Linked DNA regions of Homo sapiens: region 1 is linked to region 2. Evidence: fine-mapped expression QTL. Tissue or cell type: aorta. Region 2 holds a variant in brackets; the other region holds the start of a gene. All regions are shown on one strand. Distances are from middle to middle.

Region 1 (8,054 bases), 61 kb after region 2:
TGAAAATGTTTGCTGATCAAAGATTCCCACTGACTGTCATGTTAATTTCAGTTTGGTGTCTGGTTTTGAGTATTTTATGTAATATTTTATTTGCTGTGTAGTCTCTCCTTTAGGCAGCCTTGCCTTCTCCTCTCCTCTCCTCGCCTCGCCTTACCTCGCCTCACCTCTCCTCTCTTCTTTTTTCGTTTCTTTTGAGACAGGGTCTCACGCTGTTACCCAGGCTGGAATGCAGTGGTGCGAACATGGCTCACTGCAGCCTCAACCTGCTGGGCTCAAGTGATCCTCCTACTTTAGCCTCCCAAGCTGCTGGGGCTTACAGGCATGTGCCATTATGCCTGGCCATTTTTTTGGAATTTTTGTAGAGACAGAGTTTCCCTATGTTGCCCAGGCTGGTCTCAAACTCCTGGGCTCAAGTGATCCTCCTGCCTTAGCCTCCCAAAGTGCTGAGATTACGGGCGAGAGCTACTGTGCCCGGTGGTGATTTTTTTTTTTTTTAACAGAACCATTACTATCTTCACTAGAGGAGATTTCAGGGGAGTATCACTCAATTTTCTCCTGGTTACTTGGTGGCAGAAATTCATTACTGGGGCAGCTCGGGCTGACATCCAACTTGGTTCTCTTTATTGTGCAACCAACGGCTTAGAGCCTACATCGGAGGGAGAGAGAAGGTAGGGCAAGACAAAAGTCAGCACTTTTTTGGAAATAATGAAGTGGAAGTTATTTGTATTAAGGATATTCTTTCTCTGACAACCTCCTTTTCACCCAGTTGATGAAAGAGGGATCCCCCTTTGTAAATTATACGAGATGATCAAACACACAAGACTGGACAGATGAGATTTACAGCAGTTTGTTAGTCACACATACTCATAGCCCAGGGGAGGAGGCTACCACATGCCATGCAGGGCCATACAGGGGAGGAGGGGCTTCATTTGGGAGCAGAGTGAACCTGCAGGAGTTGTGGGAGGCAAGCTTTGTAGTAACAAGAAGATGGTGTGTTGTGGGGAGGACCCCTTGGTTCCCACAGGAGGATGTGATTATCTTGTTGGACTAATTGCTCTGAAGGGAGGTGAAAGCCATTAGGTTGAAGACAGGGTGGGATGGAGCTGGTCCAGCTAAGGGAGGTAGCCAGCAAGCAAGACTTTCCATCTGGGTGGGGGGCATATCTGGCCAGAGCAGGAGAACTCATGACTAGGGACCTGTGAGGCTCAAAGATGTCAAGGCAGTTCGTGGGATTTTAGTGCTTGCAAAACAGTTCTCCTAGTTAAAAGCTTAGTGGAGGTAGGAAGTAGGAGCAGGTAGTACCTTGGCCAGCCCCACGTCAGTGAGGTACTATCAGGCCATCGTTGAAGCCAATGCAGAGCTCTGGACCACTATAACCAAGGTGTTCAGCAGGTTGTCCACATGGATAGCTGTGAGTACCAGAGTTTATATTTATATGATAGGTTGAGTTCAAGGGGCCACAAACCAGGTGTCTGGCTTTTCAGGCAGGCGAGTGTAGTGACTAAAGGGGTACAAAAGTTATGAAGCCTGGCTTGCATTTGGGCTCTTATCAGGATTTCTGGAAGGTTATTTAATCTCTTTGTACTTCAGTTTTCTCAGTAGTATAATAGTAACTGTCTCATGGAATGGTTGAAATGTTAAATGAGATAATATCTGTAAGTGCTTAATAAATCTTAGCTCTTGTCATTGACTGGGTATAAAAGTTACCCAAATCAGCTTCTGAGGGTAAACTAATTAGTGGCCAGTCTTAGCCTAAAAGAATAGTCAGGGTTGAAGACTCTGTGATATCATTAAATCACCTAAACCACACTGGAGGTTTTCTTTCTTTCTTTTTTTTTGTGAGATGGAGTCTCACTCTGTCCCCCAGGCTGGAGTCCTGTGGCACGATCTGGGCTCACTGCAATCTCTGCCTCCTGGGTTCAAGCGATTCTCCTGCCTCAGCCTCTTGAGTAGCTGGGATTACAGGCATGGGCCACCACACCCACCTAATTTTCATATTTTTAGTAGAGATGGAGTTTCACCATGTTGGCCAGATGCTCTCGATCTCCTGACCTCGTGATCCACCCGCCTCAGCCTCCCAAAGTGCTGGGATTACAGGCGTGAACCACCGCACCCGGCCGAGGTTTTTTATTTCTCTTTACAAGGTCCTAAGTTGACAAACTATAAACATATAAACAGTTACATAGAAAGTATCAGGGAAGTTTTGGATTTAGAATATTACTAAGCTGTATTTTAAATAATGACCATTTAAGGATTCTCCTATCCAAGGGTATTGGTATTTTGAAAGCAAAGCGCAATGCCTATTATATAAAAGACATTCAATACATTTTTTAAATACATTTTGTAAAATAAGGCATTATAACTATCAAATTATGGACAGTTTTCCCTAGCTTCATTTGTAATGTTTACCAGTAAATTGAATAAAAGGCTAGTTATGGTATAATTTGCAGAGGTTGCTCTAGAATGTTCTTATAAAAGGGATCGTGGCATTGTGTTCTGGGTGGAACTAGAAAACTTGTCTTGAAGCTTGGTAGCTTCAGTAGCAGGCATACTGTTGCCTTGCGTGGTGGGCTTAGGGATGCTAATAGGACAAGATGCCCTTCCAGGCCACATGCTGGCTCATCCACTTTGCTAGCAGTTATGGATAAGAGGTAGAAGGAAAATATATTTATTTTTTGTTAATGGGGATATTTTATACAGACTAAATATATTCTTGTTAGTTCCTATGGCATTTCTATAAATGACCTCCCACCTGTTTTGTTAACTTATAAAATCACTGAGAAAACTTGCTTGTGTGTCTCTTTAAACTCCTGTTAAGCCTAGAATAGCGGTTAAAAAAATTGTATGTTTTCAACCAATATGTATTAGTCAATTAGCTTTTACTGAACCATCAATACTCAGTTGTGTTTATGATTTTTATCCTTGCAAGACACACCGTTTTAGAGATTCCAGTTAATGGGATAGATGGTAATTTAAGGATCTTTTTGATGCTAAGAGTCTAAGATGATCAAATCTATCAAGGAGAGATCTTGGTAACAATAAAGATGTTTTAGAAAAACTTGGGAATTTATTAGCCTTATATAGAGATACACATAATTCCAGTAGAATACAGTTATATAGATAGAAATTATGCATATTTACTAGTAAAAAATCTGCTAAATGAATAAACAGCCCTTGGTGTTGCTGCCCAAAGGCCTTTGGTGAAACCTGATGGGTTTTTCTGTACCACAGAATAGTCAAGGAGAGCCTCTGGAGAAGAGCATGCGGTCTGGATTTGGAAGCCTCAGTTTGATTTCTGGCTTTGTCACTTACCTTAGGCATTCAGTAAGTCACTTCACCTCTGTGTTCCTGTTTCCTCATCTGTAAAACAATGATAATAGTAGTAACTACTTTATAAGGTTGTTATAAAGATTACATGAGTGAATTCATTTCCATAAAATACTTAGAATATTATCTGGCCCATAAGCACTATATACATTCTCATGGTTTTTCTTGTTTCTTTTCATAGATATAGGTGGCTTCCAGACAATCTTTCCATACTTGGTGGTTAGAGCAGAAGAGATTCATGAAGAGCACTGCCCTTTGAAACAAAATCTCATATTCAGAAAACTGATGCCAAACACCAAGTAGCATGATTTCACTCTGAAGCAGTGTTTCAGCCATTGCCCTGGAATGGTTTTAAAGCAAGTGATATACTGCTGAAAGTGCTGCCTTTGATATTAAATGTTCATTAAAAATCTTCACTAAGACATAAAGTTTTTCACTACTATCTCTTGGTAAGGGTTCAAATTTGAGATGAAATTCCTTAAAGTGGTTAAAGCATTCATTGTCCCCTCTGCCTGATGCTTTTAACTAGTTTATTTTACAGAAGGAGTACTCTCTTCAAGTGGCTGTAGATTGAGACACTCTTACAGGCTTAGTTGTTGAGTCAACCACATTTAAAAAATGCACCTGCCCTTTGGTTTATGGTGCGTAATGCATTCCTCTCATAAACTGTAAATTGACAAAATTCCTTTGCCATTTTAAAATTGCTTAAAGTATTTATTTTTCTATATTCCTTGTAAGGAACTCCCCTGAGCACTCTTAACTTAATTGCTCTCTGAAAAATATTTTAAAGAAATTCCAGAAGTGGTAAAGCTCAGAGGAGCCCCACAAATACAAAGTGCTGAAGTAAAATATGATGCTAAATGGTGATAAGAGACTTAAAACTAGATTTCATTGTGATAAGAATGTGATAAAGTTTGATTGTAATTCTTATACCTCCTTTCAGAAAATCATGTTATAGAAAAATGTTCCTAAGCAGTAAAACAAAGCCATTTTAAAAAATAACTTCTCATGTGCACTCTTTAACAACCTAAGTGTTATGAAGTCTCTCAATTGAGATCTTTAACCGTAAATAGTTTTTGCCTTTTGTATTATGTCCAGATCCTATTTAATGCAATTAGAATACAAATTCCTATGTACTGAGGACCTTGATTACATAGATGAGATATTTCTTAGTTCCAGTTGGTGTTTCTCATCTCTTGTCTTCTCTGACCCTATTTATACATTCTCTGTTTTTATCAGATGATTCTTCCCCAGAACGGACTGGGAGAGCGAGGTCCGGGTTTCCTTCTATTTATTTGCATCGATGTCGCTCCGAGTCTTCAGCACTGGGCCGCGTATGACAGCATCTTAGTGGGTGCGGAGCGGGACAGCGCGCCGGGGGCGTGGCAGGGGCGTGGCCTGTCCGCGGGGCGGGGAGTGCGGGGCGGGGCTTCCGCGGAGCGCAGCGAGCGGGCACATCCCAGGTTAGCTGCTGCGAGCCGAGCCGGGCGGCGGAGGCGGCGGCGGCGGCGGCAGTGGCGGCAGTGGCGGCAGTGGCGGCAGCGGCAGCAGTTGCAGCAGTGGTGGCCAGAGCGGATGCTTGCGGGCTCCCTGCGGCTCCACTAGTTTTCTTCGCCCCGCCCAGCCGCCCACTCTTCTCGGCTAGGGAAGAAGACCAGAGGGTGCTCAGCTGGAAAACTCTGGTGTCTCAGCTTAGGGCCTCCTCCGGGAAGAGCTAACTGCTCCCAGGTGAAGCCGGTGCCCGCGGGCGGTCCGTACACCCCGCAGCCGGCTCGCACCGCTCGAGAGCCTCGGCCGCTGTGTCTTCCACGTCTGCAGCTCAGCCAGGGCGCGCAGGGCGAGTGGGGTCCACTGGCGGGTAAAGGGGACCAGGACGGCGAGGATGGACGCACAGACCTGGCCCGTGGGCTTTCGCTGCCTCCTCCTTCTGGCCCTGGTTGGGTCCGCCCGCAGCGAGGGCGTGCAGACCTGCGAAGAAGTTCGGAAACTTTTCCAGTGGCGGCTGCTGGGAGCTGTCAGGGGGCTGCCGGATTCGCCGCGGGCAGGTAAGGGGCAATGAGGGGGTCTCTGGACTGGCGGCGTCCGAGCCCGGCCTTCGCTCCCCCAGGCTCCCTTGGTGGCACTCGTGGGAAGATGACCTTTCGGGCCCTGCAGCCGCGCAGGGTGAATCCCGGGGAGGCTTCCGGGGATGCTTGGTGCGGGTAGCCTGAGTGCAGCGCAGCGCAGCTCTGGGGACCCCTAACCAAGCCTGCGACGAATCCCCGTTCTGGGCATCTGCTTCCCGCCCGGCTCCCTTCGTCTTGGAGGATGAGTTGGAAGGAACCAGGAAAGCAGACATCAGGGCGTGGGGGACACGCAGTCTAACTCCGTTTCTCTTCCGAGTAGGAATTTCCCCAGTGCCCCACCGGGGATTTCGGTTTACTGCTTTCTCATAAGGTGGAGGGAATTGAATTGATCGCCCCAAGTTTGGTACTAAAAATCACAAACCTGCGATATACCCCTTTGCTGGAGAATGGGGCACAGACAAGGGCAGCCGGTCTCCTCTGTAATTAGGACTTGGACCCTGTGCACCCAGAGACGTGACCCTTAGCTGCCCTTCTGTGCCCTCGTATCAAGCCCTGCTTGGAGGAAACCCAACCACCCAGTGTGTCTCCCAGCACCAAGGTAGTTTTTAGCCTGAAAAGTGTTAGGGCAACAGGCGATCAAACCGAACGTACTGGGGAGTCACTTGACATGGATGAGATGTACCAGCGTTCCAAAGGGAAAGATACAGTTTGTGTGGCCAGCGTGGATCTTGCTTCCTGTGAGCGCCTTTTGCCTGTGCTTTCGAACCCTGCTCCCCGTTTCCACCGCACCAATTTCCTTCTGCTGGTGGGAGTTCCAGTGTAGGTTCTGTCTGGAAGAATAGGTCATAGCTGTCAAACGCAATAGCAGGTGTCTAGAGCTAAGTAAGATCTCACTAGAGCCATGCACCCCTTTAGCTGTGACTATGAAGCCAACACAGACGAATCTGTGAGGTTACTGGTTGAACAAAGAACTTGTGGAGGACGCTTAAGTCTAAAGTCCCGAGTTTCCAGGGTTGGGGGACTTGCTTGTAGCAATGAGGAAGTGTGAGCTGTAGCCGCTTTTCTTGATTGCTTTGCTCAATTTTAAGTCATCCCAGAAAGAAAATCTAGGCATTCGGGAACACTGACTCCATTTGAGTTTACATGACCAGTCTTAAACCCAGCTATTTCTTTGTATACCTGTTTGGTACTAGGTGCTTTTTCTGTATTACTTGAAACAAAGTTGACATTCTCAGTTTAGGGCGATTCTTCTATCCCCAAATAAAATATCGCCTTATAGATCTGTATTTTTCTTAGTGCATTCTTTTCATTAGGAAATAAATCTCACTTTATTGGCTGCTGATAAAACTAAAGTGAGTTTGTGCGTGTGGGTGGTGAGGGTGTTATGATGTGAGATCTTTACCTGAATTATTAGATTTTTAGTCCCCAAATATGGTAACTTTGCCTGCTATGTTCACCGAATGTTGATGGCCAGCCCCTTCTCCCCAGTAAGGCCCTGATTTCACTCCACTCTGGTATCTCAGTATTTCTGGTATCTGCTGAATGCAACACATTGATTGGGTGTTCATCTCTTTTAAAGATGAACTTTCCAGAGTATCAGTCACTGAGACAGTGTCTTACCAGGATGTCAGGGAAAACTAAAGCTCTGTCCTAAGGAGAGGGAAATGACTGTAATTATTTGCATTTGATACACATGACACACAAAAAAGTTCCATGACGACAAGGAATCTTTCTTTTCTAAGTCACTCTGGATTGTTTCCCCATTGCTAGTAGATTTTTTAAATCTGTGGCTGAAGGTGATGGAGGAATCACGGGAGCACTCACAGAAGAGGCTTAGAGACATCAGTGGTACTGGTGAAAAGAAATGCTAAGTTCCTTTAATATTTTCACTAAGAAAAAGTCACACAAAAGTGCTATGCTGATTTAGATCCACCCCCCAAAAAAGGCATTCATATAGGAATTTGATATAATTCTGAAGTTTTGTGTCTGTATTGTTGGTCATTCTTTTACAAATAATTCAGCAAAATATTAAACTTTTTTAAACACTGATTCCTCTCATCTCTCTAAAAAAAAAAACCCCTCAATCCCAAATTGAGTAAACCAAACATACCACATGCTTAATAAATAATTTTCTTTCTTTTTGTATTTATATATGATCTACAACATTTAACATGATTGAATATGGTAATTGACTATCATATTTTCTAAGATTATCCTCAATCTCAAGAGAGAACATAATTTAGTCATTTCTCCATGAGAATACAAATAGTAATATCTTTTAACAAATCTATTCATTTAGCACATACCCTTTCACTGACTAAAACAAACACATTTAATTTGATTTTGTTTTTGGAAGTACGTATTTTTACTGCTTTCTTGCATTTCTTGTTCACAGTGGTTAATCCCTGAGATGTCTAGCCAAAACACAGTTTGTATAATATAAGCAGGTAGAATAAGTTTTTAGTTTCTTCCTACCTTTGTGACTTTTACTTTTTCTGATAAAAATGTTATCCAAATTGAAATTATTAAAATTGTGAGAGCAGTGATTTAAACTGTTTCTCAGATTCCCCTCACCTTTGTTCTCTACCCTGCTCCAATTCTTTTAAGCCTATTGAGCTCCTAAGGATGTTTGGATGAGAAATGTAAAAAAGGAGAGAAGGT
Region 2 (8,054 bases):
CTTTGTTTAATTTCATATTTTGGCTATTGTGAATAGTGCTTGTATTAGTCCATTTTCACATTGCTATAAAGATACTTCCTGAGACCGGGTAATTTATAAACAAAAGAAGTTTAATTGATTCACATTTCCACATGGCTGTCGAGGCCTCAGGAAACTTCAATTACAGCAGAAGGCGAAGGGGAAGCAAGGCACCTTCTTCAAAAGCCAACAGGAGAGAGAGAGAGAGCAGAAGGGAAACTGACACTTTTAAACCATCAGATCTCATAAGAACTCATTCACTATCACAAGAACAGCATGGGGAAAACTACCTCTATAATCCAATCACCTCCCACCAGCTTCCTTCCTTGACATGTGGGGATTACAATTCGAGATGAAATTTGGGTGGGTACACAGAGACAAACCATATCAGTGCTATAATAAATATGGGAATGCAAATCTCTTTGATATATTGATGTCTTTTCTTTTTTTCTTTTCTTTTTTTTTTTTTAGACAGGGTTTCACTCTGTCTCCCAGGCTAGAGTGCAGTGGCATGAAAATGGTTCACTGCAGCCTCAAACTCTTGGGCTCAATTGATCCTCCTGCCTCAGCCTCCTGAGTAGCTAGGACTACAAGTGCATGCCACCACACCTAATTTTTGTATTTTGGGTAGAGATGGGGGTTTGCCATGTTGCCCAGGCTGGTCTTGAACTCGTGGGCTCATGCAATTCACCTGCCTCAGCCTCCCAAAGTGCTAGGATTGCAGGAATGAGCCACTGTGCCCAGCCTGATTTCCACCAACAGTGTATTTACATTTCCACCAACAGTGTATGAGGACTCCCCTTTCTCCACATCCTCACCAGCATCTGTTATTCCCTGACTTTCTGATAAAAGCCATTCTAATTGTGGTGAGATAATGTCTCATTGTGGTTTTTATTTGCATTTCTGTGATTAGTGATGTTGAGCATGTTTTGTATACCTGGGGGCCATTTCTTTGTCTTCTTTTGGTAAATGTCTATTCAAATCTTTTTCAAATGTCTTTTCAAATCTTTGCCTATTTTTTAATCAGATTATTTGTTTTTTTGCTATTGAGTTGTTTGAGCTCCTTATGTATTCTGGTCATTAATCCCCTGTCAGATGGATAGTTTGTAAATATTTTCTCTATTCTGTGGGTTGTCTTTTCACTTTTTTCATTATTTCCTTTTCTGTGTGAAGTTTTTTAGCTTAATGTATTCCCATTCATCTATTTTTGGCTTTGTAGTTTGTGCTTTTCAAGGTCTTAACACAAAAATTCTGGGTGTAGCCCAATGTCTTGTAGCATTTTTCCAATGTTTTCTTCTAGTAGTTTCATAGTTTCAGGTCTTAGATTTAAGTCTTTAATCCATTGTGATTTCATGTTGGTATATGGTGAGAGATAGGGGTCTAGTTTAATTCTACTGCATATGATTATTGTTTGCCTGGCACCATTTATTGAAGAGAATCTTCTTTCCTCACTGAGTGTTCTTGGTGCCTTTGTCAAAAAATGAGTTGGCTATAATGTATAGACTTATATCTGGGTCCCGTATTATGTTCCATTGGTCTATGTGTCTGTTTTCATGCCAGCTTTTTTTTTACACCATGATAGTTTGGTTACCATAGCTTGGTAATTTATTCTGAAGTCAGGTAGTGTGATGCCTCCAGCTTTGTTCTTTTTGCTCTGAATTGCTTTGGCTATTGGAGGTCTTAGGTGGTTCTATTTATGTTTTCGGATTTTTTTTTCCATTTCTGTGAAGAATGTCATCAGTATTCTGATACAAATTGCATTGAATCTGTAAATTGCTTTGGGTACTACTGTCATTTTAACAATATTAATGATTCTACCAATCAATGAGCATAAAGTATCCTTTTTTTTTTGTTTCTTCTTCAATTTTTTTCATCGATGTTTCATAGATTTCCTTGTTAAGATCTTTCACATTTTTGGTTAAATTGCCTCCTAATATTTTATGTTCTTTGTAGCTATTGTAAATTGGGTTGCTTTCTTGATTCCTTTTACAAATTGATTACTGTTACTGTATTCAAAGACTGCTGATTTTTGAATGCTGATTTTTTTTTTTTGTTTTTTTTGAGACAGTCTCACTCTATTGCTGAGCCCGGAGTGCAGTGGTGCAATCTCAGCTTGCTGCAACCTCTGCTTCCCGCATTCAAGAGATTCTCCTGTCTCAGCCTCCCGAGTAGCTGGGACTACAGGCACATGCCACCACGCCCCTCTAATTTTTCTATTTTTAGTGGAGACAGGGTTTCACCATGTTGGCCAGGATGGTCTCAAACTCCTGGCCTCAAGTGATCTGCCTGCCTCGGCCTCCCAAAGTGCTGAGATTACAGATGTGAGCCACTGCACCCAGCCTTGATTGTATATACTGCAACTTTACTAAATTTATTTGTCAGTCCTAACCAATTTTTTGGTGAAGTCTCTAGTTTTCACTAAATACAAGATCAGGTCATTGCATTCAAAGCATATTTGACTTCTTCCTTTCCAATTTGGATGTTGTTTCTTTCTTTATCTTGCTTAATTGCTTTAGGCAAGACTTCCAGTATTATGTTGAATAAAACTGGTGAAAGTGCATCCTTGTCTTGGTCCAGATCTTAGAGGAAAGGCTTTCAATTTTTCTCCATCCAGTATTATGTTAGCTATATGTTTGTCATACATAGCCTTTATTATTTTGAAGTATGTTCTGTCTATACAAAGTTTGTTAACAGTTTTTATTACAAAAGGATGATGAATTTTATTGAATGCCTTTTCTTCATCTATCAAAATGATCATATGGTTTTTGTTCTCTGTTCTGTTAATGTGATGTATCACGTTTACAGATTTGATTATAGTGAATTATCCTTGCATCCATTGGATGCATCCCATTTGATCATGTAAATGGTCTTTTTAATGTGTTGAATTTGGTTTGCTGCAATTTTATTGAGAATTTTTGCATCTATGTTCATTAGGGATATTGGCCTGTAGTATTATGTTTTTTTGTGTCCTTGGGTTTTTTTGTGTGTTTTATACATATACATGTGTGTATATATATGTATATATATGTGTATATATGTATATATATGTATGTATATATGTGTGTATATATATGTATATATGTGTGTATATATGTATATATATGTGTGTGTATATATATACGTATATATATGTGTGTGTGTTTTATATATATATATGTATATATATGTGTGTGTGTGTATATATATATCAGAGTAATGCTGGCCTCATAGAATATATTTGGAAGTATTCTCTCATGTTAAATTTTTTTTGATGAGTTTGAGGATTGCTATTATATCTTCTTTAAATATTTGGTAGAATTCAGTAGTGATGCCATCACATCCTAGGCTTTCCTTTCTTGGGAGACTTTTTATTATCACTTTGATCTCATTAATCATTACTGGTTTGTTAAATTTTTCTGTTTCTTCAGGTTTTAATCTTGATAGGTTTTATGTGTTTAAGAATTTATCCAAGTCTTCTAGGTCTTTTAATTTGTTGACATATGATTGTTTGTAGTGGTCTCATAATTCTTTATACTTTTGTGGTCTCAGTTGTCGTTTCTCCTTTTTGTGTCTTATTTCACTTATTTTTGTTTATTTCTCTCTCTTTTCTTTTTTAGTTAGTCTAGCTAAAAGTTTATGGATTTTATCTTTTCAAAAAACCAACTTTTTATTTCATTAATTTGTGTTTTTTATCTCAATTTTATTTATTTCTGTTCTGATCTTTATTATTTCTTTCATTCAATTTTGGGGCTTGGTT[C/T]GTTCTTGTTTTTCTAATTCCTTGAGGTACATCATTAGGTCATTTATTTGAAGACTTTCAACTTTTTTAATGTAGGCATTTATTGCTATAAACTTCCATCACAGTACTGCTTTTGCTGTACCCCATTGATTTTGGTATGTTATATTTTCATTTTCATTGGTTCCAAGAAATTTTTAAATTTTCTTCTTAATTTCTTCGTTGACCCATTGGTCATCTGGGAGCATGTTGTTTAATTTCTGTGTGTTTGTGTAGTTTCCAAGATTACTTTTGTTATTGATTGTTAGTTTTACTTCTTTGCAGTAAAAAAAAAAAGCTACTTGATATCATTTCTACTTTTTAAAATTTATTGAGACTTGTTTTGTGGCCTAAAATATGTTCCACTCTGGAGAATATTTCATGTGCTTATGGAAAGAATGTGTATTCTACAGAAGTTCGGACAAATGTTCTATGAATATCTAGTTTGTCTAGTGTGAGGTTTTAACTCTGATGTTTCATTGTTGATTTTCTGTCTAGGTACTCTGTCCATTACTGAGAGTGGGATGTTGAACTCCACTACTATGACTGTATTGCAGTCTATATCTCCCTTTAGGTCTATTAATGCTTGTTTTATATACTTGGGAGCTCCAGTGTTGGGTACATAGACATTTATAATTGTTATACCCTTTTACTGTATTGACCCTTTTATCATTATATAGTGACTGTCTTCATCTCTTTTTATAATCTTTGACTTATAGTCTATTTTATCTGATACAAACAGAGCTACTCTTGATCTTTTTTGTTTCCACTTGCCTGGAAAAACTTTTTCCATCATTTCTCTATGTGTTAGTCTATGTGTTTCTCTACAGGTAAGGTAGGTTTCTTGTAGGCAGCATATAGTTGGGTCCACTTCTTTATCCATTCAGCTACTCTATGCCTTTTAGTTGGAGAATTGAGTCTATTCACATTCAGTGTAATAAATAAGGACTTGCTACTGCCATTTCGTTGCTTATTTTCTGATTGTTTTGTAATTCCTCTCTTCCTTCTTTTCTTGCTGTCTTCCTTTATGGTTAAGTGATTCCCTCTAGTAGCACTGTTTAATTCATTGCTTTTTATTTTTAGTGTATCTATTACAGGTTTTTGCATTGTAGTTACCATGAGGCTTACAAAAACATCTTAGAGATAAAACAAGTTATTTTAAAGAGATGACAACTTATCTTACATTACACACACACCACAAAACAAACAAAAGCTTTTAAAGAAAACTCTACACTTTAACTTCATCCTTTTCACTTTTTGACTTTCACTTGTCTCAATTTGCATATTTTATAATGCCTATCTCTCTTAACTTGTTTTGTAGCTATTATTGTTTTTGATAGATTTGTCTTTTAGGTCTAATATTAGAGTTCTGAGTCGATTGCACACAACAACTATAGTATTGGAATATTCTGGGGTTGTCTCTGTACTTAATTTTACCAGTGGGTTTTAAACCTTCAAAATTATTTTTGGGCATTAGTATTTTTTTTCCTTTTAGATTGTAAAACTCCCTGTAGCATTTCTTTTTAATATTGCTCCAGTGGTGATGAATTATTGTCGCTTTTGTTTGTCTGGGGAAGACTTTACCTCTCCTTCATAGTTGAAAAATAGATTTGCCGGACAAAGTATTCTTGGCTGGAAGGTTTGTTTTTTTTTTTCTTTCAGTGCATTGAAAGTGTCATTCTTCCTGGCCTGTGTGGTTTCCCTTAAGAAGTCTATTGCCAGATGAATTGGAATTCCTTTCTATATTATTTGCTTCTATTATCTTGCTGCTTTTAGGATAATTTATTTGCCTTTGACATTTGAGTGTTTGATTATTACATGCCTTGGGGTAGTCTTATTTGGTGTACTGTTTGGTGTACCTGTTTGGTGTACTCTGAACTTCCTGTACCTGGATATTTATATCTTTCTTAAGTTTTGGAATGTTTTCTGTTATTATTATTTTTAAATTAAGCTTTCTACCCCTTGCTCTTGCTCAACTCCCTCTTGAACAGCAACAATTCTTAGAGTTGGTGTTTTGAGGTAATTTTCTTTATCTTATAAGCAATCTACATTCCTTTTCATTCTATTTTCTTCTCTTCTGATTGTATAATTTCAAATAGCCTTCATTTAAGTTCACTTATTCTTTCCTCTGCTTGATCCACTCTGCTGTTGAGAACCTTCAATGTGTTCTTCAGTTCAGCGAATGTACTTCTCAGTTCCAAGATTTCCGGGTTTTGTAATTATTATTATTTCAACCTGTTTGTTAAATTTCTCTAATACATTTCTGAATTGTTTTTCTACATTATCTTGGTTATCACTAAGTTTTTCATACTGCTGTAAATTTTTTATACTGCTATAAATTTTTATACTGCTATAATTCTTGGTGAGAGAGCTCACATATTGCTCTCTTGTTAGGGTCAGTCACTGGCTCTTGCTTTGTCCATTTGGGAAGGTCATAGTTCCCTATTTGCTATCATTTCTTATGTCTTTGCATTGAAAAATTAGTTATTTATTTCAGTCTTCTGGTCTGTCTTGTTTTGATTTTTTAACAAATAAATAGCGTCTTGCTCTATCATTCAAGAAGGAGTTCAGTGGTACAATCATGGTTCACTGCCAACTCAGCTTCCTCGGCTCAAGTGATCCTTCCACCCCAGCCTCAAGAGGAGCTGAGACTACAGGCATGTGCCACTACACCTGGCTAATTTTCATTTTTTGTAGAGGCAGGGTCTCACTATGTTGCCCAAGCTGATCTTGAACTCCTGGGTTCAAGTGATCCTCCTGCTTTGGCCTCTTAAAGTGCTGGGATTACGGGCATGAGCCACTGTGCCCAGCCTTGTTTGTTTTTCATTGAATATGTTTGCTTAGAGATTCTTCATAATTTACCTATTGAGTTTCTTATGTTTTCCCACACTAAGTCACTACCTCCTTTTTGGTGCTAAATGGTGCCTAAAGCCCAGGTTTGTCTCAGCTCTGGCAAATAATCAGAACACTGCCCATTCAGAGTGGGAAAGATCCCAGAGGGGATATCTGTGTAGTGTTGAAAGACTTGCTAGGGGTTTGTGCCCAGGGGACCTGTGGAACATACCCACTTCAGCATGGTGCTGCTGAACAGCCATTCTAATTTGGCGTCTCCTTTGGCTGAGCTACACAGCAGAGTTTCCAGGGGTGGAGATGCTAGTCTAGCTTCCACCCTTTGCCACTGGCTGTCCTTAGAGATATATCTCTCTTCAGGCAATCATGATGCTTCCTGTGGTTTGAGGCATGGACAGGTCTCCCGCCAAAGAAAAGATGGTGGGGAAGCTGCTTGTCCACCTCAATTTCACTTTTTCTAGTGTAGAAAACATGAGTCAAGGACAAGTTTTTGCACACTGGTGCCAGTCAGCTTGGGATAAGGAGTGTTGCATATGTGAAAATCTGATTCTCTCACAGTCTGGTTGGAGAGTTGTTGTTGTTGTTGTTGTTGTTGTTGGTTGTTTGCTTGTTTTTACTTTTTTTTGTGACCCCAGGAACTGACTCATCTTCATATTTGAGTTCTGGGATATTCCTGGTGACAGTTTCAGTGCTGTATATTTGTTTTTGGTTTTCCATGGGGGAAAGCAAAGCTGGCTTGTGTCTACACCACCATTTTTGAAGCTGGAAGTTTCCTGTTTTAGTTTTTATGTCAGGGATATGTGATACAATATATAGTGCCCTAGAAATTTAATGAATCAACCTATATCTAGCCCACACAGCTGAAATTCCCCATTGGCCTACCTGTGAAGTAGTCACTCTGATATTAGAATAACTCAAATGACACACGGACAATGGAGGAAGGCAGTGTCTAATGCTCTTTAAGACAGAAAACTTTCTGCTTAGGGCTAGAGATGCTTTGGAAATCACTGAGCCTTCCCAGATAAAATGTGTTTTCTTAAGACCCACTCATGATACCAGTAATTTGTTCAGAGCTTCATCTTTGTTTCTGTTTCTCTGATTCGGAGTGTTTATATCCTGTTTATATCTTTCTGCTTCCCTGCCATTTTGATTATACCCCTTACCCCCAGCCATTATTAATATTTTATTCCTTGGTCTCAACTCACTCCTGATTTTGTAACTCAAAAGCCTGACAATCTTAACAGATTCTTATATCAGTATCTCCATCATCTCTTTATTCTGGTATTTTCTGATCTCTGGCATCCCACTGGTTCTTACCAAGGCTTCAAAGCTTCAAAGCTTACCAAGGCTTACCAAGCTTTGTATAATACTACATGAATGTAAATTAAACCCAAATGTGTCTCCCATTTCAGATAAGATTATAAGACATATTTAT

Which allele goes with the higher level. Positions count from the first base shown, and alleles are read on the strand shown. Sizes are in standard deviations (SD) of each study's normalised expression.
In carriers of allele T in region 2, the expression in aorta of the gene that starts at base 4,784 in region 1 tends to be lower than with C alone (small effect, 0.39 SD a copy in GTEx).

The links. PIP is the estimated chance that this variant, and not a neighbour inherited with it, causes the effect. A credible set is the group of variants that fine-mapping cannot tell apart.
Region 1: it holds the start of GPC5, and the variant in region 2 is the best candidate, but not a certain one, in a credible set for the expression of GPC5 in aorta (GTEx, PIP 0.76).

What each region holds. Positions count from the first base shown.
Region 1 is chr13:91,393,838-91,401,891 of GRCh38, forward strand. GPC5 (glypican 5) reads left to right here and starts at 4,784. Exons shown (of 8, transcript NM_004466.6): 1 at 4,784-5,372. The coding sequence starts at 5,210. It overlaps LOC124903189 (a long non-coding RNA gene), which reads left to right and starts at 3,040. Exons shown (of 2, transcript XR_007063831.1): 1 at 3,040-3,324; 2 at 3,509-3,751. RefSeq lists silencers at 4,598-4,892, 4,599-4,868.
Region 2 is chr13:91,333,162-91,341,215 of GRCh38, forward strand. No RefSeq gene overlaps it. Among named protein-coding and RNA genes, the nearest start is that of MIR17HG, 10 kb to the right of the region's middle. RefSeq lists a silencer at 3,397-3,571. The variant C/T (reference allele first, on the strand shown) is at 3,755.